2 linked regions of the Homo sapiens genome follow. The protein of the gene in region 1 purifies or fractionates together with the protein of each later gene. This does not show direct contact. Each region holds a gene or a part of one and is shown in the gene's direction. Other genes may lie near its edges.

What was found.
Region 2: the proteins of POU2AF2 (region 1) and FBXO10 purify together in Homo sapiens (affinity purification with mass spectrometry; one large-scale study listed by BioGRID and IntAct). This does not show direct contact.

Annotation. Positions count from the first base shown.
Region 1 is NC_000011.10:111,259,219-111,263,046, forward strand, and holds part of POU2AF2 (POU domain class 2-associating factor 2), read left to right. Parts: intron 1-3,828. UniProt on the Homo sapiens protein: Transcriptional coactivator of POU2F3. This complex drives the development of tuft cells, a rare chemosensory cells that coordinate immune and neural functions within mucosal epithelial tissues.
Region 2 is NC_000009.12:37,569,828-37,573,655, reverse strand, and holds part of FBXO10 (F-box only protein 10), read left to right. Parts: intron 1-3,828. UniProt on the Homo sapiens protein: Substrate-recognition component of the SCF (SKP1-CUL1-F-box protein)-type E3 ubiquitin ligase complex. Mediates the ubiquitination and degradation of BCL2, an antiapoptotic protein, thereby playing a role in apoptosis by controlling the stability of BCL2.

The DNA of each region.
Region 1 (3,828 bases):
CAGATGAGTGCATTGAGAACAAGAGAAGCGAAGTAATTATTTCAAAGCTGCACAGTTTACAAGTAGCAGATGACTCCTAATTCCACATTCCTTTTTTTTTTTTTTTTTTTTGTCTGAGACAGAATCTGGTTCTGTCGGCCAGGCTGGAGTGCAGTGGCACAATCTCGGCTCACTGCAACCTCTGCCTCCCGGGCTCAAGCAATTCTCCTGCCTCGGCCTCCCGATTAGCTGGGATTACAGGTGTGTGCCACCATGCCTGGCTAATTTTTGTATTTTTAGTAGAGACGGGGTTTCACCATGTTGGCCAGACTGGTCTTGAACTCCTGACCTCAGGTAATCCACCCACCTCGGCCCCCCAAAGTGCTGGGATTACAGGCGTGAGCCACCGTGCCCAGCCCACATTCCATATTTAAAGGGAATGGCCAAAGGGGACTAGAATAGAATAATCGCTGATACAAGCAAACAAACGGGTTTTTTAAAAAGAAATATACCACGTAGAGATAACTTCTAGAACAAAAAAAGTACGCACCGGTTCTAACCATGGTAGCTATTCTCAGGCATCAAGTGCATAGATGATATGAACTCATCTTTAACTTCCTGTCCCCATCATATTACCCAGCATCTCAACACTAGTATCTTACGCTCATCCTCACTTCACTGACTTTTTGAATTCAGATAATTAAATGCATAAAGTCCCAAAATGCGGTTATTTGGACTTTAGACATTTGCATGAATTGCCCTTACTGTCCACCTACTGATGTTTCATCCTCTTAACCACTACTCTAGAATATCTGTAAATCTCAAGGATATCATATGCATTAGTCATTGACTCTTGAGGACCTATTTCTGTCCCTGTTGCAAACGCAATCCAATAAGAAAGAATCATGGACCATCATGTTACGGGAGACACTGTGGGGCTCTGATTTGATGGCTCATACTGAGACCACCTCCCCTTTTTCATACCAATGCACTAGGACACAATGATTCTCATATATCGAGTAAGTTAAGTTAGAGAAGTCATTCATTAGACATGCTCAAAATTTGCAGCTGACAGCATGAGTAATGACCAGTCAGAGGCCCTACCATGTGGTTTACCATAAATGCATTGTAATAGGTTAAAAAAAAATGGGAGCCCCAAAGATCCCATGCCAAATCCCTGGGACCGGTGAGTTCTGCTTTATACGGCAGAATTTGTGGTTAAGTGAAGTATCTTTAGAAGAGGCCCTTACCTGGCATTATTTAGGTGAGTTCTCAGTATAATCACATGTATCCACAAGTATCCTCCCTCACAAGGGGGAGTTTTGAGAGAGAAACACACACACCGGGGAGAAGATACACAAAAGATGAGGAGGCAATGTGACCACTTAAGCAGAGATTGGAGTGATGAGGCCACAGTCAAGGAATATCTACCAGTAGCCACCAGAAGCTTGAAAAAGCAAAGGCAAATTCACCCCTAGAGTCTGGAGGGCACACAGCCCTGCCAACACCTTGATTTTGGACTTCTGGCCTCCAGAATTATGAGAGAATCAATGTTGCTAGTTTTAACCCACCCTGTTTGTGATAATTTGTTACAGCCATCCTAGAAAACTAATACTCACATATTCTGCATATTCTGAAAACTATGTCCCCCGCCGGATAGGCATACTTCAGGAAGTATCTATTGGATGCCCAAATTGCTGCTCTTTTATTTGTGACGACACTGATAAATTTACACAAGACTCTGTTGATCCATCTTTACCGCAGCTTCCCTCATGAACATCTGTTTTTGATACCATGAAATGTTTTTCACATCTTTGCAGTAGGAACAAGAAAAAATATCCCTTGCATCAAAAGAGACTTTTACCAAAGACTAGAAATTAAAACCACTTCTATACATTTTAGCTACAATTCTGTGGTTTCACAACTATTGCTATGTATGTCTATTTTTAAATAATGGTTTTTCTTTTTTCTTTCTTGAATTTTTCTGTTATTCTTTACCACACTACTAGATCTTCTACCAAGATATATAAATGTGAGCCGTTCACCACCATCTAGTACCAAATACACACACACACACACACACACACACACACACATAATTAAGTTCTGATTGCTGCTTTTTTTGAACTACACTATTTCAATTGAGTTCTATAAAAGCTAAACATCGAATTATTTTCAAATAACATCATAAAATTCAATAACCTCTTTATTATATGTAGAAAAAAGGCAATAAACCTAATAGTCACAATTTTTCAGTTTTGTTTTGAAAGTTGGTGAGTGATTTTCAGACCATTGTTCCTTTTAATCAAGTTTTTCTTAAGCTATCTTATGGATTTATTTAAAATTGTTGAATATACATCAGCTGACATGAGGGGGGAAAAATGTAAAACTTGCTGTGTAGGAAAAGGAAATCAGCTTGGAATTGAAACTGTTGGGGAGATGGGGAAGTGTCGTGTAGTGTAGGGGAAGCTAAGATTGAGCCTAGGAATCAGGATTTGATGTTCAATTTATTTGTTGATTTATGAACAAAGTAACAGCTCTTTTGCTCGGCTCATTCATCAAAATGCTATAGCCAGGAACAGTAAGAAAATAGACATGAAAATTCCTTCAAGTTAATATCCTACATAAACCTAAGGAAAAATAAATGAAGATTTCTGGCTCTGTTTTTAGAAGGTCTGAATTGAGTAAAATGTTAAAGAGAAATATCCCAAGTGAGAAATGTATTTAGATAATAACAGCCTTGATTTTTACATGCTCTACATATAGAGACCAAAAGTGAACTATTTCCACACAGCGTGATTCTTGCATGCCAATCTCAAGTGTTTGCTTTTCAAATCAGTATTACTTACAGTTATTTTCTTTCTGTACATTATCCTAAATTCTTACATTTAAATTATTTCACTGCTAAAATCTCTACATCAAGGGCATACAGGATAAGGCAATATTGTCAGCTGGGTTTCTTGGTTAATAATCTTTCCTAATTATTTTGGAGGGTTAATATTACAAGCAACGGATAGAAGTATGACAATAGTACGTATTTGATGGGAAATTTTGGGGGAACAGAAGGTGAATAGGCACCATTCGGTGTGTTTATGACATAGAGCAATTGCCATAAAGTTGGGCAGACTTTAACTGTAGAACAGATGTGCATTGTCTATCTTAGTCCCTAAAACCGCCTGTCCTTCCAGCAAGACTGCTAGTTGGACGTTTGTTTAGTTACACATTCAGCTGCTGCTTTGCTATACCAATTGTGCACAATTCAGTTACCACAAGTGTAAACATCATGACATCTAGATCTGTGATTTGCATTTGGATTTCTTGTGAAGTATTAAGAGGAAAAAATACATGCAATTGGAAGCTGCATATTCTATCATCTCAAAGTTTCTTTGATTTCCATGAAACTTTGGGTAACACATCTCTCCTCCACCAAAAGAGAAGCTGCTCCTTCTTTCGTCTGTTTGAACCCCTCCTTCTGGCTACAAATGGTCTTGGGTAATTCCCTTCTCTTCTCTGAGCCTCAGTGTCCCTGTCCATAAAAGCAGAGAGTTGGGCCATGCGTCTAAGATTTCTCTAGTTTCTGTGCTTATTTTTTTCAGATAAATTTTACTGTGTATAACTGATGTTTGCAACATGACCTTATGGGATACATATATATAGTAAAATTTCCACTATAGTGAAGCAAATTAATACATCTCCTATCTCATCAGCCTTGATTTATATATACTGTACAAGTACAGACCAAAATTTAACTATTCCAAGTGGTCTGTTTTTTTCATTCCAACCTCAAGTGTTTGCTTTTCAAATCATTATTACTTACTGATACTTAGTTACTTTTTGTGGCAAAAGCTG
Region 2 (3,828 bases), on another chromosome or scaffold:
GTCTCCTTCTCCAGCCTCTCTGGGGGCTTATACATTCCAATGGGGTCAGTCTTACTGTCACTCTCCAGAGGAGAGAGAACTGCATTGTCTGAGCAGTCCACACACATTGTCATTCCTGACACAGCTATATGGCATAACTGTTGAAGAGCTGTCCTACACAGTCCACGGATGTGTGATCACTGCTGCTCAATGCCCTTATTGGACCAAATCTCTGCCAGCATGATTCCATGCTTGGTTTTCCAAGGTTAGAGCTTGTTTCATTTATGCTTGCGTGCTCAGCCATTCTCCCCAAAGCACCTCACTCTGGGCTTTTGTTGAGCTTTTCACCAGGCTGGGTTCCCCTGGTGTCCTGGAGAGTTCTCTTTTAGGGCATTTGGGGCCCTTCCTGCTAGCAACCTTGGTCATGGTCATCTAGACCACCCAAGAGATGTCTCTGTTTTCAAACTTCTTATCAGAGTTTGTGGGCTCAGTCCCTTCTCTTCTTAACCTTAACCCAAATCCCTTTGGCAAATTGGTTCCACATACTCTCCAGGGTTCTGCCTACCGATGATTCTCAGGAATGACAGCCTTCAACAAGATAGCTACCCCAGGACTTTGGGTGCCTACTCACCTTACTTTTCCATATGTAAAGAGGGGTCGTCAGGTCACCCTGAGCCACACAGATTTAGGCATTCTGGAAAATTTACTTGGCATGTACCCTGTTAGGGATTTTGCAGGCAAGGTTTTAATTTAAAAATAAAGGATTTTAGTTTTCTCAATTTTTCTAAGAAACAATAATCAGTATATTTATTTCATTTATTTGTTTTAAACTTTTTGAATATGAAATACAGCAAATATGCATGGTAAAAAACACAATATATAGTTTAGCAAATAACTCTAAAGGAAATACACACGTAATCACCAACATGTCAAGAACTGGAACATTGCCAATACTCAGTACCTGCTTCCAAATCATAATTTCCTCCCCTAGAAGAAATCATCTTGTGATAATCATTTTTTTGCTTTTCTTTGTAATTATATCACCTATGTATATATCCCTAAACAATATAGTTTTAAGTTTTTTAATTTCATACATATAGAATCATACTTTTGCATTTTGTGTTTTGCTTCTTTTGCTCAACTTGTTTGTGAGATGCATCCACGTGGCGGCCTCACTTATTTTCGTTGCCAACAGTGTTTCATGGTATGGCTGTGTCACAATAGATGTATTCATCCTGTGGTTGATGGATACTTGAGTTGCTTATAGTTTCTGACTGCCAAGTACATCCTTAGATATTTTCTGATGTATTTGAACAAGTTTCTTTAGGTTATATATGTTAGAGTACAATTGCTTTACTAGATAGTGTCGAACAGTTTACTTTCCTACCAGGAGTATATGAGAGTTCCAGTTGCTTCATATCCTGGCAAATAGTTGCTTTTATTGGTTTTAATATTTTAACTATTTTCATGTGTGTGTCTTGATATTTCTTGTGGTTTTAACTTGCTCTCCTTGGTTACTCTTGAGGTTGAGCACTTTTTTCTTTTTTCTTTTTTTTGGAAACAGGGTCTTGCTTTGTCACCCAGGCTGGATTGCAGTGGCGTGATCATGGCTTACTGTAGCCTCAACCTCCTAGGCTCAAGAGATCTCTCCCACCTCAGCCCCCTGAGCAGCTGGGACAGCCAGATAATTATTTTATTTTTTTTTGTAGAGACCAGGTCTTGCCATATTTTCCAGGCTGGTCTCAAACTCCTGGACTCAAACTATTCTCCCATGTCAGCCTCCCCAAGTGCTGGGATTACAGGTGTGAGCTACCATGCCCAGCCCTTGAGCAGTTTTTTGTTGGTTAATTGGATTGCCTCTTTTGTGAACTGTCTATTCATGTCTCTTGCCATTTTTAAATTTTTTAAATTGATTTTTCAATAAGGAAATATATATATATATATATATATATATATATATATGGCTCTCTTTTCACCCTCTTAAATGGTGATATCTTCGATCCCATTCTGTAGAAGCAGGGCATAAAATAGAGATTCTTGTTCAAGTGAGACTGTGGGAGAAGCCCTCAGGAAGAGGAGTATGAGGAAAGCTGGATTGGGGGAGGAGAGGCACAGCCTGGTGAGGGGGCAGTTGCAGTTTTCTGGAGAAAGGGACATCTGTGAGTTGTTCTCAGCTGACACCACATCTCAGTGACAGGTGTGCTAACCAGTAAAGATGATCTGGATGGAACCAGTAGTATTCTCCACAGTCCACTTCTTGTACCATACAGATAGGCTTGCTTCTTATATTAAGTTCACTGTATCCAGGTACAGCTTCTCCAGGATTCTGGTTAGTCACAAATCCTGGGAAAACTTATAAGAGGAAGATTAGTGAGACAAATTACAACCCTTGCTGCTGCAGTTGGTCCAGAAATCTAACAAATACCCATATCATCCTCTTCCACCATCCATTTTAGTTTCCCCTTCTTTGTCCCTTGAATGTATGATAGAACTTGGTGATGAAGCCACCTGGGCTCGCAGGTGTGTTTTCTTTGCAATCTTATTTTTGACCACAGACTCAATGTCTTTAATGGTTCTAGGGTGATTTTGTTTTTATAATTTCTTAACTAAGTAATATTTTCCTAGGAGTTTATCCCTTCATATTTACTTATATAAAGTTGTTTATAATTTTTTTTTTTTTTTTTGAGACGGAGTCTTGCCCTGTCGCCAGGCTGGACTGCAGTGGCGCAATCTCAGCTCACTGCAACCTCCGCCTTCCGGTTTCAAGCGATTCTCCTGCCTCAGCCTCCTGAGTAGCTGGGACTACAGGCACGTGCCACCACGCCCAGCTAATTTTTTGTATTTTTAGTAGAGACGGAGTTTCACCACGTTGGTCTGGATGGTCTCCATCTCTTGACCTCGTGATTCACCTGCCTCAGCCTCCCAAAGTGCTGGGATTACAGGCGTGAGCCACCGCACCTGGCCGTTTATAATATTTTCTTATCATTTGGTGTACAGCATCTATAGAGATATCCCCTCTTTCATTCTGATTTCATTTTAATGCTTTTTTTTCCTTCTTCTTTGGTTTTAGTAGAGGTTCTTTTCAGAGAACCTGCTCTTATCATCAGTGATAGTCTTCATAATAAATTTGTTTTCTGTTTCATAAGTTCTGCTCTGTTCTTTATTTTTCTCTTCTATTTTCCTTGGATTTATTTTGTTCTTTTTCTGACTTCTTGAAATTGATGTTTAGTTTCATTAATTTTTATCTTTTTGATTCTCTCTATTTAAGGTTATACATTTTTTTCCAAATTCTGTTTCAGCAGGAGTTCACAAGTTTTGATATGTGGTATCTCTGTTGTTTATTTCTTTTCTTTTTTTTTTCCGAGACAGACTTTCACTCTTGTTGCCCAGGCTGGAGTGCAATGGCACAATCTCGGCTCACTGCAACCTCCACCTCCCGGGTTCAAGGGATTATCCTGCCTCCTCAGCCTCCCAAGTAGCTGGGATTGCATGCATGCGCCACCATGCCCAGCTAATGTTTTTGTATTTTAGTAGAGACAGGGTTTTACCATGTTGCTCAGGCGGGTCTCGAACTCCTTACCTCAGGTGTTCCACCTGCCTTGGCCTCCCAAAATGCTGGGATACAGGCATGAGCCACTGCGCCCAGCCTTCTTTGTTGTTTATTTCTAAAAATATTCTAATTTCCATTGTAATTCTTTTTCTTTAACCAATAGATATTATATTCGAGAAATGTGTTTTGTAATATCCAAACATACTAACATTTTCTAATTATCCTTTATTTATGACTAATTATGACTGTGGTCAGTGAGCTTGTTCTGTTTTTGGTTGGTTGGTTTGTTTGTTTTTGAG